Linked DNA regions of Homo sapiens: all the other regions are linked to region 4. Evidence: fine-mapped expression QTL. A gene starts in region 4. Each other region holds a variant in brackets. All regions are shown on one strand. Distances are from middle to middle.

Region 1 (8,140 bases), 32 kb before region 4:
ACATGATTTCTAACCATACCTTTCTCATAGTCTCTCTGGGCACCCTTCTCCTTCCATGCCCTTCCCTTGGAAATGTTCACCACACCCAACCAGGAACCATCATGATGGACAGCTCTTGGGTAGCTTTTAAACCAGAATGCCTGGCCAGGCGCGGTGGCTCACGCCTATAATGCCAGCACTTTGGGAGGCTGAGGTGGGTGGATCACCTGAGTTCAGGAGTTCGAGACTAGCCTGGCCAACATGGTGAAACCCTGTCTCTACTACAAAAAAAATACAAAAAATACAAAAAAAAAAAAACCCTGTCTCTAAAAAAAAATACAGGCGTGGTGGCAGGTGCCTGTAATCCCAGCTATTTAGGAGGCTGAGGCAGGAGAATTGCTTGAACCCGGGAGGCAGAAGTTGCAGTAAGCCAAGATCATGCCATTGTACTCCAGCCTGAGCGACAAGAGTGAAACTCTGTCTCAAAAAAACAAAAACAAAAAAACCCAGAATGCCCTGTCCTATAGGTCCCTCTGTCCTATAGGTACCACTGTCTCCTTTGTTTAGCGGAGTAAAGGCTGAACTCCTGACCACTCCCTCTCTTTACCATCTCACCATTCCTGGAACTTGTATCCTGCTTATGACAAAAGCATCATTTCTTATTCTTTTCTTCCCACATCATTCTCTGGCTTCACTGTATAGTCAAGATCTTTCTCAAATCCTCTTTCTCTAACTTCCTGATGTCCACCTTCATAAAGCTCTACTATGCCTAAAGCTCAAATTTCAAGTCCCTCTCAGATGCCCTGGTACAGGCCCAATCCTTTTTGCTTTCTTCTAAACAATTCCAAAAACTTGCACAATCATCCCACTGACTGACCAGTCAGCTACTTGCCTTTCTTCCTTCAGATCTCTCACTTGCTCATTTCCTTTGATAGGTATAGTACTCCTCCTGGTGTCACAGGAAACTTGAAATTAAATGAGAACTGGAACTGAACCCATGCCTCCAGTGTACAGTGGCACCTGAACCCTAGGACCCACTCCAAGGACTTGCCTTGGGTTACTTGAAACCAACTCAAAGCCTTCTTATGACAATATGTCCTTCTAACTAATGTTTTTCCTTTCTCCTCTTTTTCTCTTTCCTCCCTTTTTTCTTCCTTCCCATTACCTTATCTGCCCTTTGGCATGATACCGTGAAGGTCTTTGCCTTGGCCCTGGTAAAATACCTAGGACATCAACCATAGTAGCAACAAAAGAAAACATCTCGTGTATTCCCCATCTTTCCTAGCCTCTTCCCAAATGGCCTTTGAGCCTCTGGTAAAGGGTGAACGTTTTGTGTCTAGATGGTGGGTATAGTGTGGGGGAAAAACTAATGGGAGTTAAGGCCTCTGTGATCTGGGTCCCAGTGTGCTTGTGCTTCTCCTGCAGTTGACAGAGGTTGGAGTTCCAGGCTTTGGGGAGACACTTCTGAGCAGCTAGCCTTCAGGCTTCCCACCTTCAGGAACTGCCACAGCATCTTTTCACTTTGCAGTAAAGCTTGCTGGCTCTTGTTCTGACAGTAATTCAGTAGATTTCCTGATCCCAAGGCCTCCTGCAGCTCAGCTGATCGCATCAGGAATTCAGATTCTGTGGTGACTTGACTGATGAAGACTAGGCGGGGGCAAGGCTGTGGCACCAGATGGGCAGGGGTGCTGGGGAGGCCAAAAGTAACCAGCTTCCCTCCAAACTGGTGAGGAAAAGCAAGAAGGGTAAAGGTTATACCTTCAAGTCAAAAAGTAACACTAAGTCAGATTCACAGAGAAGGCTATCTAATGGCTGACCCTAGGCTAGGAAATAAATAAAATAAGAGAGTTCCTGGGGGGTGGAATAGGATCAGGAATTTAGTATTGAATTCGTCTCCCTACCAAAACCACTTCTGCACTCTTAGGACCACCCACTTCAAACTTCACCACACAAGACTCACCTTCTGCTAACCTGTCCTGGTACCACCATTCTCCCAGTCACCTGGGCTAAATACCTCAGCATTAGCAAAGTCTTCATACCCCCTATAGCCAAGCAACGACAAAGTCCTACCTATTCTTGTTCACTGTCTTTCATGCAGGTCCCCTCCATCCCATTCCCAGTGCCAGTACCCCCAGATTACTAAAATAGTTTGCTAGCCTTCTGTTCTTTTCCCTCCTCTAATTAAGCCTTAGACTATCCCTCTATTGCTTGTACCAACCTGCTGCTATTCAGGAGCCTGTGTGGTTTCACAAGGCCACAGGAAAGAGCTTAAGCTCCCCTTCCTGCAGTGCACAAACCTCTGCAAAATCAGGGCCAAACCTATCTTTCCCAGCATCTCTCTCCCTGCTTGTTTATTATAATTGCTCCACATCCCTAAAATGCCTGGTGTGTTCCTGCTTCTGTGCCTTTACCCACAACACCCCCACCTGGAGTATCCGTCTCACCAAATTAGATGCCTTATATAAAGCATCTGGCACAAAACAGGACCTTAGAAAAACCCTTTTTACTCCAGCAGTTCTCAACATTGGCTGCATATTAAAACCACATGGAGAACAATCCAGACTTGCCAGGCCACACCCCAGACAATACAATCAGAAACTCTGGGGATGGGACTAGGCATCAGTATTTTTTGAATTATTCAGGTTATTCCAATGTGTATCCAAGGCTGACAACTTTTTTTTTTTTTTTTGAGATGGAGTTTTGTTCTTGTTGCCCAGGCTGGAGTATAATGGCGCAATCTCGGCTCACCGTAACCTCCGCCTCCCAGGTTCACTCGATTCTCCTGCCTCAGCCTCCCAAGTAGCTGGGATTACAGGTATGCACCACCACGCCCGGCTAATTTTGTATTTTTAGTAGAGACAGGGGTTTCTCCATGTTGGTCAGGCTGGTCTCGAACTCCCCGACCTCAGGTGATCCACCTGCCTCGGCCTCCCAAAGTGCTGGGATTACAGGAGTAAGCCACCAGCGCCTGGCCGACAACTTTTTTTTTTTTTTAATTTTTACTTTAGGTTAAAAAAATTCAATCCAATGCAGTAAATGTCCATGTTTGTTATATGGTAAACTTGTGTCATGGGGGTTTGTTGTACAGATTATTTGGCGTTGATAACTATTGCTTTACTCCCTAACTATTCACCATTTCTTTTCCCAATATCCACCTCCTAATGAACTCTCCCAGTCAGAATTCTTATTTACCGTGACTTCTGCAGCACAAAATCTACACCACAGATTAGTGCTAAACAAAACCATTTTAACTTTTGATTTATATAGTACTTGATAGTTTTACAAAGTGTGTACATATATTCTTATTTGTGGTTCATGTTAATTTTCTGGGCAGGCATCACTATCCCTGTTTTACCGATAAGAACGGTTAAGTCCTGAGAGGTTAAATGAATTGTTCAAGGTTACCCAGCTAATAAATGACAGAGCTATGATAAGAATTCAGGCCTCTTGACCTCAGAATTCTTTACCTCCCTACTTCTTTTTCT[T/C]TTTAAGCTCACAGCCTATTGAATGTGTTAGTCTTGCCTCCCCAGTAAAACCGTTGGCTTTGAAAACAAGAACTTCCGCTTTTATACATCTGTTTTCAATTCAAACCTAATATTTAAAGCATTGTACCAAGTGCTTCAGGGCCTTGTCATTCAAAGTGCTAGTCCTCCGACCAGCTGCAAGGACATCAACTGGGAGCCTGCTGAAAAATCAGAATCTTGGGCCTTACTTCCAACTCAATGAACCAGTTTCTGAATTTTAATAAGATCCCCAAGTGATGTGGATGCACATTAATAGTTTGTGAAGCACCGCTTTGGGGATATAAAAATCAGCAAGACATAGTCCCTATCCTTAAGGAGTCTATTACTTAGTAGGGTAATATGCATATATGTATATAAATAACTTTAGTATAGTTAGAATGTATCGTTACCAAAGTATAAGTCTGTGGGATTATAGAGAGAGGTTAATTTTGACTTGGGTTAAAGACAGGCATCAAGGAGGAGATAGTATTTAAGAGAGGGGCCTTGAAAGGCTGTGGTAGCATTCAATGGGCCCAGGAGAGAAGCTGAAGGTTAGGGTACAAGCAGAGACAGGAAGAGTTGAGGAGTTATTTACAAAACAGAAAGAAGTCATATGTAACTGGAACATAGAGAACATATGAGAATGAGACAGAAATGGAAAGGTAAGTGGAGCCCTGTGCAAATTTAGCCTTGTCTATAAAGCAATGGGAGGCTCAAACGTTTTGAACAGAGAAATGACAGAATAAAATGGTTTTTTTTTTGCCTTCTTTGTAGTTCCTTACTACCAGTCCAGACACGTAAGGGTTAGAGAAAAGATGGAATCTCAGGCTATTTCTCCACAACCAAGAGTTCTAAGGCAGTCAGCTCCTTTTAGACAGGACTGGCAGAAGATATAGAATGGGTGAAGTGAAGAGAAGGAAGCTATAGTAACTCTCTCCTTGAGAGGTAAAGTGGGATCCATTCTGAGACAGAGGCAGTGGGAATACGTCTGCTACAAAACTTAGCTCCATGCTGGGCACATGGTAGGCTTCACAAACACACACACACACACACACACACACAAACACACACACACCTATACATCCACTACACTTACAGCAAATGAAACACCTGTTGGTCTTCTAATCCATTTGGGGGGTTTTTTCAGGGGAGGTATCAGTGGTGCTTGTGCCACTTGCTCTGGCACCTGCAGTGGTGGGAGAGGCTGGCCTTTGCTGAAGGAAGAGGAGATCTGGGGGGAAAAGACACCTGCATCGCCATCCTAAAGTGGCAGTTTAGTCAGGAACTCCACCTACAAACTCCATTTTGGGAGGAATCCTTGAGACACCCAATTTGACCTAGAAAGGTCAGACTCCCATATTCCAGGGGATGGGGAAGTGAGTGGTAGCGAGGGTGGGACTCCCATGCAAGTAGGCTCTTGGAAAGACTACTACATTCAAAGTCTACAATGGAGTGTGGCACAAAATGGATCTATAGAAGAGAGAAAGATAAGAGTCATACTCTTGAAATAACTGTCCCAGCAAAGGGGTCCCACGGTCCCTGAAATACTACAGGGCCCATCCAATAACAAGAGTCAAGGTGAAGGCCTTCTTCACATTGTGGCAGAAACTAACATCCTTTCAGGAAGATGGGCACTAGGGCAAAGGTGCAGCCCTCCCAAACCCCGGGCCCTGGTCTCCCAATCTCCAATATCTCCGCTTCTCAAGCCATATGTCTCTCTCCCACAAACAGAGACAGCCCCTTCCCTCCAGCATTCTCTACCAAGCCCTTCAAACCTTGTCAGCCTGTCTCATATGCTGGACTTCCCAGCTCCTACCCATCACAGAGTACAAACTGATCCAGCCGTTGAAGGAGGCAGCAGAGAACACTGAAGGGTCCCGAGGGCACCACTGCACATCAAAGCACCAGCTGCTCTGTGTTGGTAGCTTATATACCACCTAATATGAGGGAACACACCATTAGGGACAGTCCATGAAACCCAAAACACATGGCTGCAGCTGAGATTCTTCTACCCTCTCTCTCCCATCCCAGCATGCCCACAGAAGGGCCAGCCTACCTCACTGCTCCCCAGGTTCCGGCACAAGATCTGGCTGTCCTTAGCACTAGTGAGCAGCAGCTCAGCATCAGCCTGGCTCCATGACACTGACAAGATCCCCCTAAAAAGAGAAGGGAAGAGGAACTAGCATTTGTTGAATGCCTACTATGAGTAGGGTGCCTTATATGTCTTTTATACATTTTATAGGGCATATCAGACCATCCATGCCCTATAAAATGCATGGTCTGATATTATCTTACAAATGAATAAAATGAGGTTTTGAAAAATTAAGTAACTTTCCAACAGTTGCAGAGTCAGAACCCAAACCAAACCTCAGAGCCTGTGCACTATGCAATGTACCACTCTGCCTCTCTTAGATCACTGCAGGATGACCTGCTTCTTTTCACTGATTAGACAGTAGAGATTATGAATCAGTATGAATCACACAAACACTCATCACTATGGGTGCTTTTAGCCCAGGAGGTAGTAAAGACCTAACCATCTAAAGTCCCCAAGGAGGCCAGGCACAGTGGCTCATGCTTGTAATCCCAACACTGTGCAAGGCCGAGCGGGGAGGATCACTTGAGCCCAGGAGATCGAGGTCACAGTGAGCCTTGATCACGCTACTGCACTCCAGCCTGGGTGACAGAGCAAGAACTGGTCTAAAAAAATAAAGGTACCCAAGGAGATACAAAGGCACCATGGCCCTTTGGTTAGAAAGAAGAGATTGTGGAGGCTGGATAGAGGCCTCCACAGGATAGACAGGAGTCAAGTTGTTTTTATGAAGAAATCCTGGAGGAGGCAAGCTCATCACCTAAAGAAATGAACATTATCCTCATATCAGAGCCTGGAGGCTAAACACTGGTTCCAGTATTTCTCATTACCCCATTCCATTCCCATCTCTGGAATTTAGATGGAATCTCAGCCTCCTCTCCATAACCTCAGGGTCTAAGGGCCTCCTCTTGGTTAAGGCTGGAGTAGGTATTGGGTGACTATATGTTGACCGGAATGGCTTTAAAGCCAGGGAGGATGTTTAGTAGCTAAAGTGAGGGATACATTGCCTCCTACCCAGCCCAGTTATATCCACCATCCCCCCAAGGATATGGATGACGTCTGAGATGCTACCTGCTGTGGCTCTCCAGCACCTTCAAGGGCGAGGAGGCAAAGCGCAAGTCCCACAGCTGAATCACGGGAAGTCGATCATCCTCTGAGCACAGCACTAACTGGGTGGCTATGTCAGGATGCCAGGCCAGGCCTGAGCAGTGCATCTGTGAACAAAGCAGATCCCAATGGGTGCTGTAACCTGACTCTTTTGCCCAGTTGAAATGGGACCACTCTGAGAGCAAGTTTTCTGTCTCTTTTGTGACTGGGAACACCACAGGCATCAGAGAGTGATGGCCAGGAATAAGTAAGGAATGGCAGAAGCTTCCAGATCAGCTCTGTTTAGCTTCCCTAAGTTTTCACTCTCAATAGGAAATGTGCTAAGCGGCTGACTCCACATGTCCGACAGCTGAAAGCAGGACTCTGGCCTGGGGCAGAGCAGCTCTAACTGCTAGGCAGGAGAGAGAAGCCAGAGCCCAAGCCTGTGTTCTGGCCTCCAATACTCACCCTGTTGCTGTGATCACTGACTTTGATGATAGGTTCATTCTTCCTGAGATCCCACACAACTGCCTTGCCACTGGGGTGAGCAGAAGACAGAATGTGTTGGGCTTGCCGGTTCCAAGACAGTGCCTTGATGTCCTCTGGAGGCTGCTAAGGCAGGATGGGGACAGAAAGATGACAACTTGTCACCCCCTGGACAAAGTGACATCTGCTGTTCCACTGCTCCCAGCCACCCACAGCAAGTCCAAGAATAGACATGGGGCTACCCAAACTAAGACAGTGTTGCGAAGCTGGGAGTTGAATTTTCCAGGGAGGATCCTTTAGGGTATCAGTGTAGAAGCAGAGGGGATGGCAGGCACATCTAAGTTTTACTCCTACCCAAGGTTTTACTAAGAGGATAGAGTCAAGATTTTAAAAAACAGCCCTCTTGTCTAGGACAAAAAAAGAGGGAGAGAAGGAGGAAGATGAGGGAGGGAGGAAAACAGATACCCAAGACCCCAAGAGAGAGTGAGGCCGAGAGAAAAACCACAAGATGCTATCAAATTGAAACTTAACTTACCTCATGATACTGTAAGCACAGAAGAAAGAGAAAAGGCCAGGAAGCAAAAAGATGGGCCCAGTTACAGATTGACAGACAGCCTCTCCAAGACAGAAGACCAGACCCCCAACTGCATGGCAGAGCCACATACAGGGAGAACAAAGCTGACCCCCCCCTCCATAAAAAGGACAATGGTATGTCTGGGGTCCTACTCTTCCTCCCTCTTTGCTGGGCCCAATGCCCTACCCAACCCTGCGAAAGCTCTACTGTGATAAACAGCACTCCCATCCCTTCTTGTGGTGTCTTTTGCTCTCCCCAACTTTCATCTGCCTCCCAGAAACTCTTAGAACGAGTAATGAGCACAAACCAACTACCCCATATACACCCTCCACCCACCAGCCATCCTAACTCTTATCTGGCTGGTAGCATGTTAGTCTGTGGAGCTTTATTGCCCTCCAGTGGTAAAGTTTGATATCTCTTGAG
Region 2 (8,140 bases), 28 kb after region 4:
ATGAAAGGTGAGTTTGGAAGTGTTTGGATTTTCAAAAGAAGGACAGAGGCAGAAGCCAACCACAGTTTAAGGGGGCAGCTAGTAGAGAGCTTTTTAGGCAAGGGAGGCCACTGCACATTTATAGGCAGAGAAGGTGGCAGGACAGAGAATTTAAGAGAATGAGGTCTCAGAGGAGGCATAGGATGATGGGATATGAAATAGCAAAGGCACACCCAAGGTGATCCTGAAGCTCAGAAATATTAAGTCATGCAGGAGGGGGCACCATTGGAAATATAATCCCCTAAAGTTATGAGTAAACAAATGATGGTGGGGTGTGGAGGGTAGAAAGAAGGCCTAAGCTTGATGTGGGGGCCACAGCCTGGGCAAGAGAAATTTCCAGCAAAGCCTCTGACAAATTTCTGACAAAGCCTCTCATGTTATCTAGTTGTGGCAGAAGCATCTGAACCAAATGGCTAGGAAGCTTGGTGAACAGTCAGACCCAGTGAGGGTTGATTAATGGATCCATGTCAGCCTAGACTAGAGGGAAGTCTCCAGCAGTATGCCTTAGGGCTCAGTCTGGGCCTGTGTCCTCTCTGACATTTTTATTGACAACTGACCGAAGCAGCAGGCTCATCAAGTTTGCAGGTGATAGAGCTAGGAGGGGCAGTTAATACTTTGCATGAAAGAGTCAGGATTCAAAACGATTTCAACAGGCTGGAACACTGGGCTGGAACCAACAAGATTAAACTTAACAGGGATAAATGTAGAGTCCTGCACTTAGGTTAAAACAAAATCAATGACATAAGTACCGGTTGTAGGGGTTGGCCCAGCTTGACAGCAGTTCATGAAGAAAAGACCTGGGGGGTTTAGTTGACTGCAAGCTCAATATGAGTCAACTGTGTGATGTGACTGCTAAAATCCTAACACAGCCATGAATTGCATTAACCAAACGGAGCAGCCAGATCAAGGGAGGTGTTACCCCACTGCTTTCTGAGATGGTCAGGCCACCTCTGAGCACTGGGTCCAATTCTGAGGTCTTTTCCCCTGCTAAGGTCAGTGACAAATGAGAATATTTTTGATAGGAAGCCACCATGGCAGTGGGCCTGAATACTGTCCGAGACTTGCCAGTGATTCTATGGTGCTGAAATTTCTGGAATGAAGGACAGGAGTCTAGAATCTGAACCCAGGCAAAGACTTTTATCTGGAGCATATTTCTAGGATTTAGGGGAAAATTTGGGGTCTGCATTTCCTCACTTCCTATGGCTGCCCAGAGGCATTGGCCTGTGACTCTCATCCCTGGCCTTCCTGAGGTCAGGGGATTAGCGATTAGTTAGACGGGGTCTAGGGTAGAGGTCAGCCTGAGGGGGCGGCTATAAAACGAGTCATTGAGGTGGGAGGGAACCTGGAAATTGGGACCTCACGCACCATATTTCCCGCGCTCTCCCCTGGGACGTGCCGTCCCTGCTGCAGTCGCAGCGTGGCGCCCTCGCTCCACGCAGGGATCCTGAGCCAATGGCGGAAGCGGAGTGCGCGGCGAGGTCGCAGTTGCGTTTCTCGCACTCCCCACTGCGGGGAGCCCGTGGGCCCCGCACTGCAGGGAAGCTGCCGGCCCAGGTCTCCTGGGTGGCAAGAAGACGCCTGTGGTGTGGAAGAACCTCGCCCGCAGCCCAGCACGTGTAGAATCCAGATGTGGCTTCTGCTGGAGCCACGTGTTCCGGCCTGAGCGACGTCGCACGTGGCCTCCTGGCCGCAGAGCCCATGGCGCGGGGGGCCACTCTTCTGACGCAAGGGTCTGTGGGGCCGCGCAAGAGCCTGGGGCCCCCGACCTTCCGCCGACTGGCCGTGGGCTGGCCGCAGCCCAGCTCGGCTCTGTCTCGAGTTCCTTCGCTGTTCAAAGCAGAGTGGCGGCCACGTTCGGGGGCACTGGGGCGAGGGGTCGGGCGTCGGACGGGGCCCTGGGTCTGTACCGTTTCGGGCTCGCCGGAGGGGCTGCAGGCAGGGCGGGTTTCGGGTTCCACCGCCAGAATAATTCGGCAGTTCTGGATGGGGCCCAGGAATTTGTATTTGTGACCAGTTTCCCAGGTGAGTCTGAGGTCCGTGGTCCTCTGACCTCGTTTAGGGATGAGATCTAGTCCTCAGAGCCCGGGGCGGGGCTGCCGAGGACACCGGCTTGCTCTTCAGGCAGCTCTGGCCCGGGTGGCGGGAGGAGGCGGCCGGGGCTGGGATCCGGGCGCACCCTGGAAGCTCCAGATGGGCGTTGGAGACCTAGGGCGAGATGAACCGAGGACCGTCCATGTGTGTGGGTGCCGCTCAGGAGCGGGGAGGTGGGGGTGTGGGTGGACGGGCGTGTTGAGGGTGATGGATTGCTGCAGGGAGTGGACTCAGCCTACTGGGAGGAGTGGGAGAGGGGAAAGAACTGGAGGAACGGCGGAGTCCGTTGGCCTTTTCTTGGAGAGCTGGAGATGGAGGTTGGTTCTGTCCTGATGGGGGCAGGAGGACGGGTAATGGAGGCTGCCATGCTCAGTGAAGCCCCATGGGGGCAGCCATGCTTTGTGGTTTGTGGTGAGGCACTGAGCCCCAGGATACTGACTATTCCCTTTTTTGGAGAAAGAGGGGAAGAGGATGCTCCTTAAGAGCTTCTAGGGGAACGTTTCTGCCTCCAGGGGGTTTAGGTGAACTGTGTGTGTGTGTGTGTGTGTGTGTGTGTGTGTGTGTGTGTGTGTGTGTGTAGGTTAGCATATTGGAGATTTTCAAGGGAGTTCGTCTCCAGGACACTTCCCTCACCCCTACATCCACACACAGTATCTTATGATCCTCTTGGTTTCTCTTGGGCCTCAACTCCCCAAAAGGGGGGCACTCTTGTCAGCAGCTCACAAACATGTGGATATCTGCTAACTGAAGACACTCTGAAGACTTTCCCAGAGGAACGTTATAGAAGGAACCCTCAAATTCCAAATCCTTGAATATTGGAGCTGGAAGAGAACTTACAAACCATCTGATGCTGTCTTCCCCAGCTTGGTCTTGGAGAGTAGACACCTTAAGTGAAGGCCGAGCTTCGTAAGCCTCTGAGGATCCCAGTACCTGGTGTGGAGACAGGACTTGTGCATTGCCTAGAGAAGGGAGAGACACAGCAGAGTCAAGCGGTGGGTGGTGAGCTTTGATGGTGAACACCTGGGAGCTCAGAGGTGGGTAGGAGCCTATAAAAGAAGGCCCCTTGAAGGAGGGAAGCTAGAGCTGCATCTTTAAATGGGGAAAATTTATCTTTTGTGTTTTTCCCCCTGATTATGAATTTATGAAAATGAAGAAAAAATATATTGGGGCCGGGTGTGGTGGCTCACACCTGTAATCCCAGCACTTTGGGAAGCCAAGGCAGGCAGATCACTTGTGGCCAGGAGTTTGAGACCAGCCTGGCCAGCATGGTGAAACCCTGTCTCTACTGAAAATACAAAAATTAGCTAGGTGTGGTGATGCATGCCTGTAATCCCAGCTACTTGGGAGGCTGGGGCACGAGAATTGCTTGAACCCAGGAGGTGGAGGTTGCAGTGAGCCAAGATTGCGCCACTGCACTCCAGCCTGGGCAACAGAGCAAGACTCTGTCTCCAAAATATGTATATATGGATGGAACACTGTGACATGTTGGTCTTCAGGGGAGCAAAGCTACAGAGGCCTGAATTTCCTGAGGTTTGGAGGGCAGTGAAGAGATGAAGAGGACAGCTCTGACCATTGTTGGAGCACAGTGAGCTCGTAGGGCAGAGGGGTCTGGCTGCAACAGAAAGTATCTGGCAACAACAGGAGGTATGAGGCTGGAACCCAGGGGAAAGAAACAGGGTTGGGCTCAGCTTCATAGAGGTAGTGAGGATTAGGCAGATGAGAACACCCAAGGAGAAAAGGAGAGAAAAGAGGGTTTGGGCGGGGGGTGGGTAGGTGTGAACATGCCTGAGAGTCATTTCCCAGGTAAATAGGAGTGGAACTGAGGGTGGAGTTCAGTGAGAGGGAGGGAGGAAGAACGACACAGGAGGGGTGGGAACCAGGGTCACCTCTGAAGAGGGGTTTGAGTGCAGGAGACAGGAGTGAGGCCCTAGTGAAGGTCATTAGATTTGGGGATGAAGAGGTCAGCAGAATGGTAGGGGTTAGAGGGTGAGTTGGTGGAGAGGAAATGGGGGCATAGCAAGTATAAACTGCTATAGGTTATCCGTTGAGAAGTACACAGAGGACTGGAGACAGGTTGGGGTTTTGAAAAGGAAACTGCAGCAACGCTTTTTTAGCCAGGGGAAGAGGAGCAAATCTGTAGACAGAGGACATAGGAGAAGGGGCCACTGGAGAGGGGGAGATGGAAGCTACCAGAGAGAGCAGACACTTGAAGGAGCTGAGTTCCAGAGGGAAGGGGGGACAGGGCCTGCAGGAGGTTGAAGCCTCAGAGAAATGGGGAGAAGGAGGGGAAGTCATGGGGTTCAACCTGGACCCAGGTTTTGATCTCCTAAAAGTAAGAGTAAAGGTTGAGGTTGGCTTCTTCAGGTAAGGGTGGCCAGGGTGAGGCTGGGCTGGACGGACACAGAGGGAGGGGTGGAAATGCTGTTGTGAAGA[ATTTG/A]TTTGGGAGTCAAAGGAGCAATCTAGGCGTGTGATGTACTGCCTGGTAGGGCGGAGGTGCAGTGCAGCTGGGCTGGGATTTGCCTTGGGTGAAGCTGATGCTGCATCTTGGGGCAGGATGGAGTAAGCAAGCCATGGTCTGACCTGATTACAAATGATAGGCTCAGTGCCAGGCTGAGGGGCCTAGGGGCCAGGACACGATGAGGACAGTGAGGGGCCTCCCTGGGGAAGGGAGGGACAACTGCCAGAGCCTGGCCCAGGAGGGCCCGATAGACGAGTATGGGCAGCCATGCAGTGTGTGGGGTCAAGAGCCTGGACCCTGGACTCAAGAGCCTGAGTTCAAATGTGAGGCATTGTCATTGTCATGATTTTTAAGTATCTGAGGTAGGCTATGAGTGGAGGGAAGGACAGGAGGAGGTACAGAAAGGGAGTGCTTGCTTCATGCCAAGGAGTGTTCTATATTCACGAGTCCTTTCTAAACCACCGCGAACTAGGTACTGTTTTATCATTTTACAAATTAGGAAATTGAGGTTCAGAGAAGGGAAGTAACTTGGCCAAGGTCACACAGCCAGTTGGTGACAGTTGGTTTTCGAAAGGCTTTTTTTCTGTTGCTTTGATAACAGTCCCTTCTGAGAAGTGGCTCCAAAGTCTGACTTTCTGCTATGCCTTTTCATCAGCTACTTACTAGGTAGGTGACCTTGGGCAAGTTACTTAATTTCTCCCTCAATTTTCTCATCTGAAAAACAGGAATAATAGTAACACTATCTCATAGGGTTGTAATGATAATGAATGAATATATGTAGAAGATTTGAAAAAAAAAACAGTGTCTAGTACATAGAAAGTGCTGCTTAAGAGGGTGCTGCCATTGCCAGCATCCTCCTCCTCCTCCTCCTTCTCCTCCTCATCATCATCACTCCTTACAGCCTCCAGCCAGAAGCTAAGGACTTACAGGCAGGTGAAAGAAAGTCCTGAGGCATATTAGTCATTTAGAGAAGGTCCCATGGGGAAAGGCAAGAGAGTAGCATCCAACCAGTGGTTCTCAACAAGGGACATTTTTGCTGTAACAGTGTCCTGGAGGAACTACTGACTTTTTTTGTGGGGGTAGGGAGAGGGAGTAATGGGGTGGGGCAGCAGGGAATTACTGACTTTTGGTGGCAGGAGCCAGGAGTGTTAAAAGTGGCCATTCATACCCAGTTGAGAGTGTGGAGAAGTTCAGCTGGAAAGGGTGCTTGGGATTTAACTCCTCAGAAGAGTTGCAGCTCCAGCTATTGGAGCAGCTGGAAAAGGTATGGAAATGAGCTTGGAGGTCTGTGAGGGGCTGGAAAGAATCAGACTTAGGAGGGGGCAAGGCTTCCTGGAGGGGAGGGTGGGGGTGAGGCAGGCTGAGGGATCTGGACAGTAAGCAGGGGCAATGGAGAGCCATGGGGTTCTGGATGAGGGACATGATGTATTTGGGGAGATCACTCATGCAGCCAGGGAAGAGGTTGGGTTAGAGAGGGATAAAAAGGGGGCCCATTTGGGGATTGGGAACAACCCCTAAGGCGGTAAAGACACCTGGGCTGGTCTGGGGTTTGGGGTTGGAGCATGCAGATAAAAGACCACACTGAGGCACATTTGAAGGAAAACTCCGTGTGAAGATGAAGGAGTGGTGAGTGGGCTGGGCTGGCCCTAGCAGGTGCATGACCTGGGAAGGAATTCTGGGAGAGATGGGCTGGTCGGGGACTCAAGGTGATCACAGTGAATTTCAGGTGATGCTGGGGAGTCTGGGAGCTGTCTAGTGAGGGGCTAGTGATGCCAGTTGGAAGTTAGGACTGAAGTACCAATTTGGGAGTCATTTTTCCACATCTATTGACACTCAATACACATATAAAATAGGGCCCCTTGGAGGGTCATTCCTATGGGGTTGCTAGTTGAATTTGAAGTCTTGCTTGCAGACGAATTTGTCATAGGAAAAAGCGGAGGGGTAAAGCACTGGAAACCTGCATCCTAAGCCTGGCTGGGCCCCTTCTGCATAGCGAGGGAGTGAGGAGAGAGCTGCTGGGAGAGTCAGCGAGAGGTTGGAGAACTAGGAGAGGGCATTGCCAGCGCTGCCGGCTGCAGGGAACAGGCCTAGGAGCTGGCAGAGTAGCAGGGTGGAAGCCAGGAACAGTGGAGCTGCTGAGGGTGAAGATGACTCAGGGGCGGGAGGAATTTGGGAGTTCAAGGAGAGTGGACCGAGCCGTGGTTCAGGAGGCAAGTTGAAGAGGGTGTGTACATGAGAACGGGGCGGTGGTGGGGTGCGGAAACACTGAGGCCTGCAGAGGGGAAGGGAGCAGGAGAAGAGCGTTTCCCTGAACTAGGGTTCACAGGGAACCACCCCCAACCTCAGCCAACCTCAGGTCCAAAGTAGTGGATTTCTCCAGGCTCTATTCTCTGACTTCCACCTCCCCGCAACACACACACTTGACCCCCAATTTGAGGCTATTTCCTCTGCCCTGGCCTCAAGGAACATGGAGAAAAATAGCCTGTGTCCTCACTCATCTGGCTCCAGGGGATTCCCTGCCTCCTCTGCCCTCAGCATTCCCTTCCCTAGGAGAAAGCTCTGCTCCCGTAAGGTGACCTGACTTTAGAGTTTTTCCTATTTGCCATCCTCAGTGCATATGGGCTTTCAAACAGTGTGTGGGCCACCCTGCATCTCCCACTTCCCCCAGTCATCATCTGCCACTGCTATTCAGGCCCAACTAGGCTTTTCTTGGCTGTTGCTTTGATCACAGTCCCTTCTGAGAAGTGGCGCCCCGACTCCCTCCCCCACCAGCTCCCTGGTCTCTTTGAGTCTGTCACCGGAGTTAGGAATCTGCATGGGATGTTGAAAACTCCTCTCCTCTAGGAATCCTCCTCCAATTGGGCTCATTCAATTCTTATTGCTCCTTTCCTCGGTTGAGTCTGCAGATATGGAGTCCACTTAGATAACTTTGCAGATAAAAAGCAGCTCGTGCTCTGCTATCTGACTGGGAACCATTTTTGCCTCTATTGCATTGTAATATTCTGTAAGGGAACTAGAGCTCACCTAGTCCAGGAGTTTCCAAGGATATTTTTAACCTTAGAACCTTCAATTCTGAATGTACACACACACACACACACACACACACACACACACACACACACATACACACAGAGAGAGAGAGAGAGAGAGAGAGAGAGAAAAGCAGAAATACGTTGGCTGAAATTTACCCTTGCTCTAACCTTTACCCATAGCAGCCCTAGACACCCCTGAGAACCCTTAGAGCTCCATGGAGCACATTCTGAAAGCCCAATTTCTTCACTTACAGATGAGAAAGGCCCAGAGAAGTGAAGGGACTCTCCCAAGGTCACACAGCAGGAGCAAAAACTCAGGATTCCCCCAATTCCCAATTCTAGCATTCTAGGACTTATTAACATCCAGCCAAGCTCTCCCTCTAGTGTTTTTTAAAAATGTAATTTGTGTTTTTCATTCATTCACACAGCAGATATTTACTGAGCACCTACTATGTGCCCAGTACACAGTCTGCCCTTAAGACTATTAGGTACAAGTCCTAGGAGTCAATGGGAAGCAAAA
Region 3 (8,000 bases), 60 kb before region 4:
GCCGGAAGATTTCTTGAGTCTGGACAACAGAGCAAGTCCCTCTCTCTAAATAAATAAATAAAAGTACTTCGTGTGCACAGAATAAACACTCAGTGAAAAGTATAGTACCCACCCCATGGAGTTGCTACGGAAATTTAAAAAGATGATACAGGTAAAGCACTTAGAAGAGTTCCTCACATACTTGAATAAATGCTAGTTATTATTACATGATATGATTAAACTTTATATCAGTGTATACACACACACACGTATACTGGACAGCTAACACAAGAAGAAGAAACAATTGTAAAATTTTGACTTGGCAGTGTAAAAGCACAACTAACCACAGTTATTTATGTAAATCGCTTACCACTTATGCCTAATTACTATGAAGCACAATAACAATTATGCACAGCACTAAGTGTGTCAGATTAACTTTGCTAAAGGTTTGATTATAGCACTAACCTCTGTGTACATATGCTCAGTGTTCACTCTGTTACTCTTGTAGTTGATCATCTCCTAATGTGGCACAGTCATCTGCTCACTACACTAAAAAATTAGTGGGAGCACTGGCTTGCCACAGGCTTCCTATATTTCTCAAAATCTTTTTGCAGTTCTTTTTCTCCTTACATTTTCTGCTGCATCTGATGGTCTATCTTTTTTATTTCAAAATCCTTGTATTCAATTCACTTTTATAGGCACTTACTATGTTCAAAGTACTAGATTAGGAACTGGAGGGTATACAGAGATAATTAAGGCAGCCCATACTTAAGTATAAAAGAGGAAAGGGAAACCTTCATATGAAACAGAGAAAAGTTGCTGTGAGGCTTCAAGGTGTGCTGGTTGTGGCTTCTGCACTGGTACTTATTCAAGAATAAGTGAGATTTTTAAATAATAGCTTTATTGAAATATAATCTACATACTATAAAAGGCACCCTTTAACAAATCAATGATTTTTTTTAGCCAATTCATGGATTTGTGCAACCTTCACCACAATCCATTTTAGAACATTTTAATCACTTCAAAAAGAAACCCTTTATTTATTAGCATTCACTCCCCGTTCCTCCTCCCCTCAGTCCCTGGAAACTGTGAATCTAGTCAGTTTCCATGAGATTGCCTATGCTGGACATTTGATATAGATAGAATCATATCATTTATGGCCTTTTGTGTCTGGCTTCTTTCACTCAGGATGATATTTTCAAGGGTCATCCATGTTGTAGCTTGTATCCAGTACTTCATTCCTTTATATGGTCAAAAAATATTCTATTATGGGTTGGACATGGTGGCTCATGCCTGTAATCTTGCACTTTGGGAGGCTGAGGCAGGCGGATTGCTTGAGGTCAGGAGTTTGAGACCAGCCTGGCCAACGTGGCCAAACCCCATCTCTACTAAAAATACAAACATTAGCTGGACATGGTAGTGCATGCCTGTAATCGCAGCTTCTTGGGAGGCTGAGGCACAAGAATTGCTTGAACCCAGGAGGTGGAGGTTGTAATGAGCCAAGATGGCGCCACTGCACTCTAGCCTGTGCAACAGAGCAAGATTCTGTCTTAAAAAACAAAAAAAAAGGTGACTCTTCATGATTTTTGTCTGAGCAACTAGGAGGAACAGTCCTTTACTTAGATGGAGAAGACTACAGAAGGGGTAGGCTTGGGTGATGGCAGCGAGGATCAGGAGTTCAGTTTTGGACACGTTAAGTTTGAGATGCGTATTAAACACTGAAGGAGAGATGCCAAGAATACAGTTGGATATGCAAGTCTAGAGTTCAAGCAAATGTCTGAGAAGAGCTGGGAGGGTTCAGGAAGTCATGAACCCTTTGAATGGTCCTGAATCTGGGTAATATTGTCAGCAACTGTACAACCTCATGGGAAATGGGAAGCTTGTACCTCCATCTGGGAGTATACTGTTTTACCATGTTCTGTCTATATAGCAGCCTCCATTTGTTAAACAAAATTTATATCTTAAATTTACATCTTCAGTGTTTGTTAGCATCTTTCCTTCAATCACATAACTGCCACATAGAGGTGGCACCCATACAAACACTTAAATTCCTTCCTTTTTGGTTCTCTTTGCATCTTCTCACAATACTCACTATGTTTTCTGCAATCTATATTTTACCCCCAAAAGGAAATCATGTCATTGTTTCATTGACCAAGAACAAGATCCTCCTCCTTTGGTACTCACTACAGGACAGTCTTCTTTTTTTTTTGAGACAGAGTCTCGCTCTGTCGCCCAGGCTGGAGTGCAGTGGCACGATCTTGGCTCACTGTAAACTCCACCTCCAGGGTTCAAGTGATTCTCCTGCCTCAGCCTCCTGAGTAGCTGGGATTACAGGGGTGCATCACCACGCCCAGCTAATTTTTGTATTTTTAGTAGAGACGGGGTTTCACCATTTTGGTCAGGCTGGTCTCAAACTCCTGACCTCAAGATCTGCCTGCCTTGGCCTCCCAAAGTGCTGGGATTACAGGCGTGAGCCACTGCACCCAGCTGAGTCTTTTCTTAATATAGGATATTTTGGATATGAACAAGCTAGCCATAAGGTTCAAATATGTCTGCAAATAACTCGGAGGTTAACAACACAAGTTGGCTGGGCGTGGTGGCTCACGCCTGTAATCCCAGCACTTTGGGATGTCAAGGTGGGCGGATCACCTGAGATTGGGAGTTCGAGACCAGCCTGGCCAACATGGTGAAACCCCATCTCTACAAAAATTACAAAATTAGCTGGGTGTGGTGGCACACGCCTGTAATCCCAGCTACTCAGGAGGCTGAGACAGGAGAATTGCTTGAACTCGGGAGGCGGAGGCTGCAGTGAGCCGAGATCATGCCACTGCACTCCAATCTGGGCAAGACAGAGCAAGACTCCGTCTCAAAAAACAAACAAACAGAAAAACACAAGTCCCGGGAGGTGGAGTCTGCAGTGAGCCGACATCACACCACTGTACTCAAGCCTGAGCAAGATACAGTGAGACTCTGTCTCCAAAAACAAAACAAAACAAACAACAAAAAAAACAAAAACACAAGTCACTTTATAGGAATGTTGTCCAAATAAGGCCTATAGTGTTGTTCCATGACAGGTGCTCAATTAAGTCTCATTCATTGATCAGTTGGGCTTGACCTGGATATCATACAAATCTTTGCATATTGTAGGATCTTCCAGGAAAGAATTCTCTAGAATCTCTGTCTATTACTCCCTGTAGTTCCGGCTTAGACTCCTTTCACAGGAAGACTCTTCACCCCAGCTATGGCAAAGCATTTTCTTTGTCACTCAATTTGCTTTGTTGTTTTGTTTTCTTTCCTGATAATTTCTGTCTTATGGAAAATGGGAACTAGCTCTGTCAGGCTTGGTAATGTCCAAAATCTTTGAATGTTATTCCTAACATAAAAAGTGCCTTTCTGAGTGGGAACAAGCTCAGGCCCCTTTCCCCAAAGCAAAGGGGCCTGGCTGACTCCTCTGACATGTCTTTAAGGATCAGAAATTCATGTCCAAACCTATAATGGCTTTGGAAATTGTGAATTCATTTAAGTCATTCTGAATTGTATTTTTGTGTTTTGCTGGTGCTACTACACCTGATCAAGCAGTGCTTCTTTTCAGTTGAATTAAGGTTGCCTACCAAGCTTTAAAAAGTAGGCCTTGGTGGCTGGGCGCGGTGGCTCACGCCTGTAATCCCAGCACTTTGGGAGGCCGAGGAGGGCAGATCACGAGGTCAGGAGATCGAGACCATCCTGGCAAACACAGTGAAACCCCATCTCTACTAAAAATACAAAAAAAAAAAAATCAAAAAAAAATTAGCTGGGCATGGTGGCAGGTGCCTGTAGTCCCAGCTACTCGGGAGGCTGAGGCAGGAGAATGGTGTGAACCTGGGAGGCAGAGGTTGCAGTAAGCCGAGATGGCACCACTCTAGCTTGGGTGACAGAGTGAGACTCCGTCTAAAAAAAAAAATAGGCCTTAGTTTTGATAGACTTCATAGTATTTTTGATTTTCTAAAATTCTATTACAACTCGTTTAGAATCTTTTTCATCTCATATGGCAGCCTCTTAGTTTGTTAATACTGGTTTTCAAAAACTACTCACATTTTTGGTGTTGTATGTGTTTTTTATGAAGAAAGTCAGCCAAGCTCTTTTGGCCTGACAAGAAACTTTCTTGGTCTATTTCATTTCCAATCCCCTTTCTGGTGATGTTCAGCATCTTATTGGCCTTCAGAATTGCAGGGGTACACCA[G/GATTT]CATGGAACAATACATAATGATTCCCGTATTACTTTCTCACATTATAATGGAAAAACAAAGATAATAGATAATAGATTCTGATTTTCAAATGCCTATACTGAAGTCATTCTCCAAGTCTTTAGCCCTGCAGATCATGTGTATATGTACATATATATTTAACTTTTTATTTTTAGATAATTATGGAGTTGCAAGACATGTACAGGGAAGAAACGTACAGGGAAGTCCCATGTACACTTGCCCCAACCTCCCCCAGTGTGAACATCTTACAACGTTAGTACGATATCCATGAAGCTTATTCAGACTTCACCATTTTTACATGCACTTGTGTGTACATGTACTCATGTATGTGGCTTTATGCAATTTTGTCATGTGTAGCCTTGTATAACCACAGTAAAGACATTTGGCCATTCCCCCAAGACTTTCTCATGTTACTCTTTACAGCCACATCCATCCCCCATCCCAAATCCTTGGCAACCACTGATCTGTCCTCCAGCTCTATAATTATATAATTTTTATTATTTCACTATTGTTATGTAAATAGAATCATGCAGTATGTATCCTTCTGAGACTGACTTTAATCACTCCGTAACTTCCTTGAGGTTCATCCAAGTTGTTGCATGTATCAACGTATCATTCCTTTTTATTGCTGAGTAATATTCCATGGTATGAATGTACCACAGTTTTTTATTTTTTATTCATTTATTTATTTATTTTATTTTATTTTTGAGTTGGAGTCTCGGTCTGTTACCCAGGCTGGAGTGCAGTGGCGCGATCTTGGCTCACTGCAAGCTCCATTCCCAGGTTCACGCCATTCTCCTGCCTTAGCCTCCTGAGTAGCTGGAACTACAAGTGCCCACCACCACGCCTGGCTAATTTTTTGTATTTTTAGTAGAGACAGGGTTTCACCATGTTAGCCAGGATGGTCTCGATCTCCTGACCTCATGATCTGCCTGCCTTGGCCTCCCAAAGTGCTAGGATTACAGGCGTGAGCCACCGCACCCGGCCACAGTTTTTTAAACTACCCTTTGAAGGACATTGGGTAGTTTCCAATTTTTGACTATTATTAATAAAGTGGCTATGAGCATCCAGGTACAAATTTCTGAGTGAAAGTAAGTCTTTATTTCTCTGGGATAAATGCCCAAGAGTGCAATTGCTAAGTCATATGACAAGTTCATTTTTAGTTTTTTTTTGTTTTTTTTTTGGGACAGAATATCACTCTGTTGCTCAGGCTGGAGTGCAGTGGTGCAATCTCAGCTCATTGCAGCCTCTGCCTCCCAGGTTCAAGCGATTCTTGTGCCTCAGCCACCTGAGTAGCTGGCATTACAGGCGCATACCACCATGCCTAGCTATTTTTTTTTTTTTTTTTTAGTAGAGACGGGGTTTTGCCATGATGATGCCTAGGCTGGTCTTGAACTCCTGGATTCAGGTGATCCACCTGCCTCAGCCTCCCAAAGTGCTGGGATTATGGGCGTGAGCCACTGTGCCCAGCCCATTTTTAGTTTTAAAAGGGGCAGCCAAACCATTTTTCCAAATCGCATTACTTATTTTTAGAGTTTTATTATGACTCAATCCCTAGAGAGATATTCCACTGTTTGTTTACCTCTTCCTAATTAGAGAAGTATCCTTCTAACGTCCCACGGAGTCAGATGAATGTGGATTCAAATCCTGCTTCACTCACTTATTAGCTGGGTGAGCCTGAACACACGTTTAACTTTTCTGGAGTCTCAGATTTCCTGTCTGCAAAATAGAGATAATAATGCCTGAGACAGTAAGGATTTAACAAGATCAACATGTAAAATACCGAGAGTAGAGCATAAGGAACATAGTCAGGAGTTAATGCTAGTTCTCTCCCCCACTTCATGGCAGAATAATCAGCAACCATCACTATCAGGTATATGGTACTGGAAATTTTACCTGGCTTTAACAATGCAAGGAAATGATACTACTTTTATTCATGTTTTTTCTACTAAGTTTTATGTGTGTGTGTGTTTTTTTTTTTTTGTTTTGAAACAGAATTTTGCTCTGCCGCCCAGGCTGGAGTGCAGTGGCGCAATCTCGGCTCACTGCAACCTCCACCTCCCAGGTTCAAGTGATTCTCATGCCTCAGCCTCCTGAGTAGCTGGGACTACAGGCGCCTGCCACCATGCCCCGCTAATTTTTGTATTTTTAGCAGAGACGGGGTTTCACTATGTTTGGCCATGCTGGTCTCAAACTCCCGACCTCAAGTGATCCACCTGCTTCAGCCTCCCAAAGTGCTGGGAATACAGGCATGAGCCACCCCACCTGGCTGTAAATCATCTTTAGTAGGTTTGTTATGCACAGTGTTTCCTGGGTAAAACTAGTTTCCCTTTCTTCCTATTAATGACATGTGCTGAAGTAATTCTTACCACTCTTGGAAGCAGAAACAAGTTGGTGTCTCTGCATTATATTCTGTTTTTGTTTTTTTTTTCCCTTATAGGTCGGTGAACAATTTCCTGATGACTGGTCCAAAGGTAAGAACAAATTCCATTAATTGATATGGATTTCACTAATCTTAGCCTGTTGACTAAAGATGATAAATGCAGATTTTTCATTATATCCACATATTTTATTATGCTGTATACATTACAGATAGAAAGATTGAGACCCAGAGGGTGTTAGGGACACATCTAAAACCACATAGCAAACCACTGTCAGCGCCAAGATAAGAACGCAGGAGCACTGAATTTATGGCTAGAATTTCCAGAGCCATAAAAGTCAACAGCCTTTTATAGGTGTCAGGCTGCAAAGTCACACATCCTTCTCAGTGCCCCGTGGTGGGATGCAGTTTCCCATGTTTAAAATGCTGGAATTGTACTACATGATCTTTACATTCATGGGCATTTTCAGTTCCAAAATGTTGTTTTCTAAGATGGTCATGTGATGAGAACTCCTTAAATTTCATGAATTAGGTGATTTGGGCTCATTTTGGAGAGACAGGATAGTATAGTGAAGAAAGGTGAATAAAGGATAATAGGGACTAGAGTCTGATAAAACTGAGTTTCATTTCTAGTTCTGCCATTTGCTAGCTCTGGGACTTTGGGGAAATTACTTTAGCTCACTCCCTGGGCCTCAGTTTCCTAATCTATAATATAGTGCCTATTTCACAAGTTATTTGTGATGTCAAATGAGACAGCATATTTAAAGGCTTACTCCATTATTTTGGAGGGATGGGAGAGTGAGCAGGAAGAGGGCTGTTTGGTCAGTTTAGGGTAAATGCCTCCTAAGTTCAGTCTGAATTTTTACCCCTATGTCCCTACAGGCTTACCTGATTTACTCCAGCAGTGTGGCAGCTGGTGCCCAGAGTGGTATTGAAGAATGCAAGTATCAGTTTGCCTGGGACCGCTGGAACTGCCCTGAGAGAGCCCTGCAGCTGTCCAGCCATGGTGGGCTTCGCAGTGGTAAGAAAAACCTCAGCCACAGCTCCCTGGACCCTCTGGTCACAGGTTAGAGCCCCAGGGATAGCCCCTTGCCTCCTCGACACCCTTATTCCTCACCTGCTCTCTTCTCTTAGGTCATCTCCCTCTCCAGGATCTTCTCTTTTCCTTTTCTACTTCCTTTTTCCCACCTGTAGAGTTTTTTCTTTCTTTCTCAACACTCTCATTGCTCAACAAATGGATCTTGCCTTACTCCCAATCCCATACCATCCTTGGCCTCCCAGCTGGCTAAAGGTCTCCTCACAATGTAAGTAATATCAGGAGGTAGGCAGGGGTCATAATTCCTCAGACCTCTTAGCCCCTTCCTCAGCAGAGAGATACTGGGCAAGTGGAGAGTGACTTGGAG
Region 4 (8,124 bases):
TACCCGCCACCATGCCCGGCTAATTTTTTTGTATTTTTAGTAGCGACAGGGTTTTACCGTTTTAGCCAGGATGGTCTCGGTCTCCTGACCTCGTGATTCACCCGCCGTGGCCTCCCAAAGTGCTGGGATTCCAGACATGAGCCACTGCACCCAGACCAGTGTTAATTTTTTAAAAAATGTTTGGTAGGATTCATCAGTAAATCTATCTGGTCTTGAGCTTTTCTTTTTCTTTTTCTTTTTTTTTTTTCCTGAGATGGAATCTTGCTCTGTTGCCCAGGCTGGAGTCAGTGGCACGATCTCAGCTCACTGCAACCTCCGCCTCCGGGATTCAAGCGATTCTCCTGCCTCAGCCTCCCAAGTAGCTGGGACTACAGGCGTGCACCACCATGCCTGGCTAATTTTTGTATTTTTGATAGCGATGGGGGTTTTACCATGTTGGCCAGGCTAGTCTCGAACTCCTGACCTCAGGTGGTCCCCCCGACCTCGGCCTCCCAAAGTTCTGAGATTACAGGCATGAGCCACTGTGCCCAGCCTTTTCTTTTCTTTTGAGACAAGGCCTAGCTCTGTCTCAAAAGGCTGGAGTGCAGTGGTGCAATCTCAGTTGACTGCAACCTCCACATTCCGGGCTCAAGTGATCCTCCCACTTCAGCTTCCCGAATAGCTGGAACTACAGGCGTGCCACCATGCCTGCTAATTTTTTTTTTTTTTTTTTTTTGGCTGGGGGGATTTGGTAGAGATGGGGTTTCTCCATGTTGCCCAGTCTGGTCGCGACCTTCTGGGCTCAAGTGATTCGCTTGCCTCTGCCTCCCAAAGTGTAGGGATTACAGATGTAAGCCACCATGCCCAGTTTCTGGGCTTTTCTTTATGGGATGTTTTTGATTCCTAATTCAATCTCTTGTTACAGGTCTATTCAGATTTTCCATTTCTTCTTGAATCAGCTATTATAGCTTGTGCCTTTCTAGGAATCTGTCCATTTCATCTAGGTTCTGTAATTTTTTGACATACAATTGTTTACAGTATGTCCTTATATGCTTTTTTTGGGGGGTAAAGTCAGCAGTAATATCCCTGTTTCATTACTGATTTTAGTTCTTTTAATCTTCTTGATCTTAATTAATTTATTTATTTTTAGTAAGACAGGATCTTGCTCTGTCATCCAGGCTGGAGTGCAGTGGCATGATCATGGCTCATTGCAGCCTGCACCTCCCAGGCTCAAACAATCCTCCTACCTCAGCCTCCCTAGTAGCTGGGACTACAGGCATGCATCAACGCACCGAGCTAATTTTTAAAATTTTTTGTAGAGATGAGGTCTTGCTATGTTGCCCAGGCTGATCTGGAACACCCAGGCTCAAGTAATCCTCCTGCCTCAGCCTTGAAAAGTCCTGGGATTACAGGCATGTGCCACCATGCCTGGCCTAATTTATTTTTAATTCCCAAGGTTATGAATTAATACATTCTTGTAAAAATTCAAACATTCAGCCTGAGCAACATGGCAAAACCCTTTCTCTACAGAAGGAAAAAAAATTAGTCCGGCATGGTGGTGTGTGCCTTTAGTCCCAGCTACTTGGGAGGCTATGGTAGGAGGATTGCTTGAGCTGGGGAGGTGGAGGTTGCAGTGAACCAAGATTGCATCACTGCACTCCAGCCTGGGTGACAGAGTGAGACCCTAGCTCAAAAAAAAAAAAAAAATTCAAACACTGCAGATAAAATGAAAGCCTTGATTGCCCCCTGCAGCCTCAAACACTTCCACAGAGGTAGCCCTATTATCGGTTTGGTGTAGCATGGTTACTATGTAGCATAATTACATAGTTAAGCCAGTGCATTCATTTCTATTACTGCATAACAAATTACTGTAAATTTAGCAGCCCAAAACACCAATTTATTTTCTCACATATTCCATGAGTCCAGGTACTGGTTGGCTGAGTCCTCAGCTCAGGGTCTTATCAGGCTGAAATCAAGGTGTTGGCTGGGTTAGCGATCTCATCTGAGGCTCCGTGTGTGTCCTTTCCCAAGTTCAGTGGTTGTTGCCAGAATTCAGTTACTTGCATTTGTAGGATTAAGGTGCCCACTTTCTTGTTGGCTGTCACCCAGGAGCCTTTCTCAGCTCCTAGAGTCCACCTGCCATTTCCTGCCATATGGCAGTTTGCTCCTTCAAGGTGAACAGGACAGCTGTGCTGTGGCTTCAAATCTCTTAGATTCTGTCTCTGACCTCTAGCCCTGATTTAAAGGGCTAGAGTGATAAGATGAAGCCCACCAGGATAAATCACCTCTTTTTGACTGCCTTAAAGTTAATTGATTAGGGACTTTAATTACATCCTTGTCATATAAGCTAACCTAATTACAGGAGTGATGCTCTATCATATTCACAGTCGTGTTTTCTTTTAAGGGGAGAAATGTATACAGGATGTGTACACCGTAGGGTACAAATCTTGGGATACATCTTAGAATTGGGCCTCTCACAGCCAGCCATAAGAACTGTCCAAGTAAGCAATAGAGGTATTAATATGGCCTTTTATAATCAGTATAGATTGTTTGAAAATGTGAGATGTCCATGGTTGGCCTCTAATAACATTCGATTCACGGCAAACATATATTCAAGTAGGAGACATGGTGATATAGGCAGAAAAATCAAATGATGCTAAACAAAAGAAAACTGTCTTTGATTTTGAAAGAATTCAACTTGCTGTATATCTTTTGCCTAAGCCTTCAGTCAGCCTTTGCTCTACATCTACCAATGTGATCACTGCTTTTCCTTCTGACTTCTTTAGGTGGGTCAAGAGTTTGCTTTTCTCCCCATTCATGAGTGTAAAGTTTAATGCCTAACTGAACTTGCTTCCTTCTTTGACTCTTGTGTAGACTCGGGCACATGGGGCAACTTTTTTTGTGTTTTGCTCTACCAGGTCGTCCCTATTCCGTGGGACTAGTGTCTAGCCCCATTTCTTCAGCAGTGGAGCCTAGGATGTAGAGCTGCATACTACCATTAGGAGGCGCACCCTCAGGCCTCGGCTCCGCGTTCTTTATGTCTCTGGACCGCTCTCTCTCGCAGCTCATCTCTATGGTTTCCGTTGGGTGTGTGGTTTTTTTGTTTTTTTTTTTTTGGGGTCCGGAATAGGCGGAGCTTCCGGTTCCGGTGGGGGCCGTCCCTGGCGGCGGAGATGGCGGCGACAGCGGCGGAGGCTGTGGCCTCTGGCTCTGGAGAGCCCCGGGAGGAGGCTGGAGCCCTCGGCCCCGCCTGGGATGAATCCCAGTTGCGCAGTTATAGCTTCCCGACTAGGCCCATTCCGCGTCTGAGTCAGAGCGACCCCCGGGCAGAGGAGCTTATTGAGAATGAGGTGGGGGGCGGGGCCGCGTCTAAAGGGAGAGGAGGAAGGTACCCGGTTGAGAGGTCAGAGGTGAATGGTGAAAGAGATGGGAGACTGGCAGGGCTCTAGACTAGGGCCTATGGGAAGATGGAGAGAAAGGCGAGGAGATACGGAACTTAGGGGTTCGTGCTGATTAACAGGAGAAATTATTCTGAAGTTGAGAAGTAGTTGGGATCATGGAGGCCAACCCACCGGCTCCTTGGCATTACTTCATTTGGTGTTTTTCACCTGTTGTTTTCATTTAGGAGCCTGTGGTGCTGACCGACACAAATCTTGTGTATCCTGCCCTGAAATGGGACCTTGAATACCTGCAAGAGAATATTGGCAATGGAGACTTCTCTGTGTACAGTGCCAGCACCCACAAGTTCTTGTACTATGATGAGAAGAAGATGGCCAATTTCCAGAACTTTAAGCCGAGGTCCAACAGGGAAGAAATGAAATTTCATGAGTTCGTTGAGAAACTGCAGGATATACAGCAGCGAGGAGGGGAAGAGAGGTAAATTCCGAAAGCTTAATTTTCTGTTGGATTTAGGACACTCATTTTTCTTTCCTATACTTGTTTGAAGGTGTGGCAGAATTGGGTCAATTAGAGATTGGCCTCTCCCATCTCTGGATTCCAGTTGAAGGAGTAGTCTGGTCTTCCAGCCTTTAAGGGGTTTGAGTTCTTAGTGGTTCTTGGTGCTACAGCCAGCTAGTTCTGTAGCTTGAGGGATGAGGGAATGATTAAACTTGAGCTATGAATCTCTGGGTTCCCATCTTCTTCCTCATAAAGAGTTAGTTGCCTAGAAGGGTCAGGCAGGTGAATGGAAGGAGTAATATCGTCTGTGTGAAATCAGTGATGAGGCTGAAGGCATAAGCCTTGTTCAAAGTGAGAAGCCAAGGCCGGCGGGGGTGGCTCATGCCTGTAATCCCAGCACTTTGGGAGGCCGAGGTGGGAGGATTGCTTGAGTCCAGGAGTTCAAGACCAGCCTGGGAAACGTGGTGAGAGCTAGTCTCTGCAAAATTAAAAACTAAAACAAAAAACCATGGTGAGAGGTCATTACTTGACTCTGCTTGCTTCAGTTTTGGAGTGCAGTTCTAGGGTTGGGAGATATTCCGATTTTCAAGAGAAGTTCAAAATCAGGATTTTTATTTAAAATCTTTTGACTTTAAATGGAGCAACTAAATCAGATTTAAAGAAAAAAAGTTGCAGGGGGCCAAACAAAAATGTTTGTCACTGGATTTAGCTCTGAAAATGCCTGTTTGTAGCCATTGTCCTTAAGTATTGTGATGACTGAGGATAGTTCAACCTGAAAAGTTGTATAGTTTGTTGTGATTCTGCAGTAAAGAAGGTTAGGATTCTCTAGCTTAGGGAAGATCAGATTAAATTTGTTTTTCCTATCACAACAGCAACACAAGACACACAAGACAGTGATTCTTCCTCTCTGCTTTTATTCCTGCTTATGAGGACAGCCTCTTATGTAGGTCCGAGACAGTATTCAGTCCCACACTATAACACTGCCTCTGGGGAATTGCTTTCGCTCAGTACTTCACGGTGAATTACCCTCTCGCATTTGGTGTCCAACCCTGGGTTTCTCTCTAGTCTCTTGCTTCACTCACTCCTGTTCCTGACTCCTTATCAGCAGTCTGTGGCTAAGTGAATGGATTTGAAATATCTTTTTTTCTTCTTCTTAACACTTAGCAGTTGTCATAATGATGGGATTTTTGACCAGAAGAGTTTCCAAGATATGAACTGTGGTCGATCTGTCCATGATGTCTTAATATATTGGTTCAGTTATCTCATGCATTAATTTTCTAAAATTTAACACAGTGTGTGTGTGCACACTTCCATATACACACACCCAACATTGAGAGAAAGATTGATTTAAATGATGCTGTTGGAGTGTGTAATTCCATTGAATGAACATATACCCAAGAATAAGCATAAGATATGTGAATCTTGTGGTTCTTCAGTCGCTTGAAGTTTCTTGTGTCCCATAGTGAGAGCATTTTGCATAAGAATGAGTGTAATCTGTACTTTATGGGTGATTAAAGAGTTTTCAAGGAAAATCTTTAATTGTTTGGAAGTTTTACCCTATCAGCTGACTTTAGCACCGAGCAGCTTCACCAGTCAGCTTCACTTCAACCTGATTGGACAGGTTGTGGCGACTATGGGGTGAAATGTATTAGGATCCTCTGAGCTATTTTGAGCATTAACCATTCTGGTGTAATCATAATATTGTTTAGATTCATATATGGGCAGTATCACTGACTCTTTCAAAGTTACTTGCATATTTTTTGGGTGAATATATAATTATTATCTTTGGGGAGCGTTGCATTGAGTCTTGAGGATTTCATGTTCCTACAAAGGTAGTGTTTCCAACTCATCAAGATTTCCTATTAAGGCTGGGCATGGTAGCTCACACCTGTAATCTCAGCACTTCGGGAGGCAGATCACCTGAGGTCAGGAGTTCGAGACCAGCGTGGCTAACGTGGTGAAACCCCGTCTCTACTAAAAATACAAAAATTAGCTGGGCATGGTGGCACGTGCCTGTAGTCTCAGCTACTTGGGAGACTGAGGCAGGAGAATTGCTTGAACTCAGGAGGCAGAGGTTGCAGTGAGCCAAGATTGCGCCACTGCACTCCAGCCTGGGTGACAGTGAGACTCCGTCTCAAAAAAAAAAAAAAAAAAGATTTCTGATTAACATTGCCTTAAACATTGTGATTCTAGGCAGTGAGATGAGATGCCTTTGAACCTTTCTTTTTTTTTTTTTTTTTTGAGACAGGGTCTTGCTCTGTCACCCAGGCTGGAGTGCAGTGGCATGATCTCAGCTTACTGCAACCTTCACCTCCCAGGCTCAAGCGATCCTCCCACGTCAGCCTGTCAAGTAGCAGGGACCACAGGCATGTGCTGCCACCACCATGCCCAGCTAATTTTGTGTATTTTTAATAACCAATTTATTTATTTAAATACATAAGGTTTTGCCATGTTGCCCAGGCTGGTCTCGAACTCCTGAGCTTAGGCAATCCACCTCCCTTGGCCTCTCCAAGTGCTGGGATTACAGGCGTGAGACACCGCACCTGGCCTCTTTGAGCCTTTTGAAATAATGATCTCAGGACCAGGACAGAGATGCTTCTGTCTTTTTTTTAGGTTTGCACACTTATTAAATGTCTCTTGTGGGCTTGTTCAAGTGTGTCTGGGTTTTCATATCTCTTAAGTAACTTATGACCTTCCTCAGGTATGTTAGGAGCCTGAGGCCTTTACCTAATAAGCTATCTTCCTTACTTTAGCTGTAGAAGGCTGCAACAGGATAGGTGGCTGAATCAGTTAAGATAAACTAGGCTTCAAGCCAGAGCTCGGGCTAGAAACAACAGAGGCTTATTTCTCACTTACTACATGTTGATCATGGGTAATGTCATATTGTTCTTTACATCATCTTACTTGCTCTGGCACCCAGATTGCCCCAGCAGCTACTATCTAGAACTTTGGAGTTGCTGTGGCAGAAGGAAAGAGATGTGGTAGTGGTAACTTGTTCTTAAATTACAGTTGGAAACAACACAAGTCGCTTCTGTGGACATTTCCTTGGCCAGAGCAGCGTAAATAAGCAAGCCTGGCTTCAAGGGGATGTGAAAGAAAACTCGCACACTGAGGGAACCAGCTCTTGGTGAACAGTAATACAATTTACCACAGTGGTCATCAAGGGCCAACGGAGATGTCTCAGGCTCTGCGAGTCTCTGGAGTGAGACTGATTCATCATTCTAGGGTCTGTGGATAGGCTTCTAGGAGTCTGAAATTGTGTGAAAGTTCTGGGTGTATGTGCATTTTTATGGGGAACCTCCGTGGATTCTTTTATTTATTTATTTATGTATTTATATTTTTTGAGATGGTGTCTTGCTCTTGTCACCCAGGCTGGAGTGCAATGGCACGATCTCAGCTCACTGCAACCTCTGCCTCCCAGGTTCAAGTGATTCTCCTGCCTCAGCCTCCTGAGTAGCTGGGACTTCTTCTCCAGGTTCTTTTTTTTTTTTTTAATTTTATTTTTCATCTCACCCTCCTACTCTTTGGATTCTTAAAGGAGTCATTCTGTGACCCAAAAAAGGTTAAGCATCACTTCTTTAAAGAAAAAGTTTGGGGGCCAGATGCAGTGTCTCACACCTGTAATCCCAGCACTTTGGGAGGCAGAAGCAGGAGGATTGCTTGAGCCCAAGAGTTTAAGACCAACCTGGACAACATATTGAGACCTTGTTTCTTTAAACAAAACAAAGAAAAACCAGTAAATTAAAAAATTTGGTGTTGAACATAACTCAATGAAGGATAAGTAAGAATTCAGTTGTATGAGAATCCATGTTGGCTAAAATTTGCCTGACTACATCTGTTCTCTGTGGGAGATGCTGGTATGGATTTGGGCTTGGATTTTCAGATGTGGAGAGGCCATGCCAGGGGCTGTGTGTGCATGCACTAATAGGATTTTCTTCTTGGGGAACATAGGTTGTATCTGCAGCAAACGCTCAATGACACTGTGGGCAGGAAGATTGTCATGGACTTCTTAGGTTTTAACTGGAACTGGATTAATAAGCAACAGGGAAAGCGTGGCTGGGGGCAGCTTACCTCTAACCTGCTGCTCATTGGCATGGAAGGTAAGAAATCTTTCAAAAGCAGCATGGCTTGGAGTCATATGAACCTGATTTCTAATCCTGTCTTCACCGCTTATTAGCTCCATGACTTTGAACAAGCCACTTCACTTTCTTAAGCCTCAGCCTACTCAGCTCTAAAAGAAACATAATA

Which allele goes with the higher level. Positions count from the first base shown, and alleles are read on the strand shown. Sizes are in standard deviations (SD) of each study's normalised expression. Not every link is listed here.
For the expression in tibial artery of the gene that starts at base 3,137 in region 4, allele GATTT in region 3 goes with a higher level than allele G (small effect, 0.17 SD a copy in GTEx).

What was found.
Region 1: its variant is fine-mapped to the expression of HIF1AN in whole blood (INTERVAL, PIP above 0.99). The same link has a PIP of 0.9 or more in subcutaneous fat.
Region 2: its variant is fine-mapped to the expression of HIF1AN in lung (TOPMed, PIP 0.91).
Region 3: its variant is fine-mapped to the expression of HIF1AN in tibial artery (GTEx, PIP 0.97).

The regions. Positions count from the first base shown.
Region 1 is chr10:100,500,783-100,508,922 of GRCh38, forward strand. SEC31B (SEC31 homolog B, COPII component) reads right to left here. Exons shown (of 26, transcript NM_015490.4): 6 at 7,126-7,269; 7 at 6,643-6,785; 8 at 5,539-5,638; 9 at 5,258-5,419; 10 at 4,579-4,713; 11 at 1,472-1,702. Among named protein-coding and RNA genes, the nearest start is that of SEC31B, 15 kb to the right of the region's middle. RefSeq lists a silencer at 5,797-5,997. The variant T/C (reference allele first, on the strand shown) is at 3,465.
Region 2 is chr10:100,560,677-100,568,816 of GRCh38, forward strand. No RefSeq gene overlaps it. Among named protein-coding and RNA genes, the nearest start is that of HIF1AN, 29 kb to the left of the region's middle. RefSeq lists enhancers at 1,233-1,871, 1,630-1,709, 1,820-1,869, 1,872-2,509. The variant ATTTG/A (reference allele first, on the strand shown) is at 4,564.
Region 3 is chr10:100,472,395-100,480,394 of GRCh38, forward strand. WNT8B (Wnt family member 8B) reads left to right here. Exons shown (of 6, transcript NM_003393.4): 2 at 6,658-6,691; 3 at 7,480-7,618. Among named protein-coding and RNA genes, the nearest start is that of WNT8B, 13 kb to the left of the region's middle. The variant G/GATTT (reference allele first, on the strand shown) is at 4,199.
Region 4 is chr10:100,532,807-100,540,930 of GRCh38, forward strand. HIF1AN (hypoxia inducible factor 1 subunit alpha inhibitor) reads left to right here and starts at 3,137. Exons shown (of 8, transcript NM_017902.3): 1 at 3,137-3,329; 2 at 3,605-3,855; 3 at 7,828-7,976. The coding sequence starts at 3,153. RefSeq lists enhancers at 2,897-2,986, 3,057-3,116.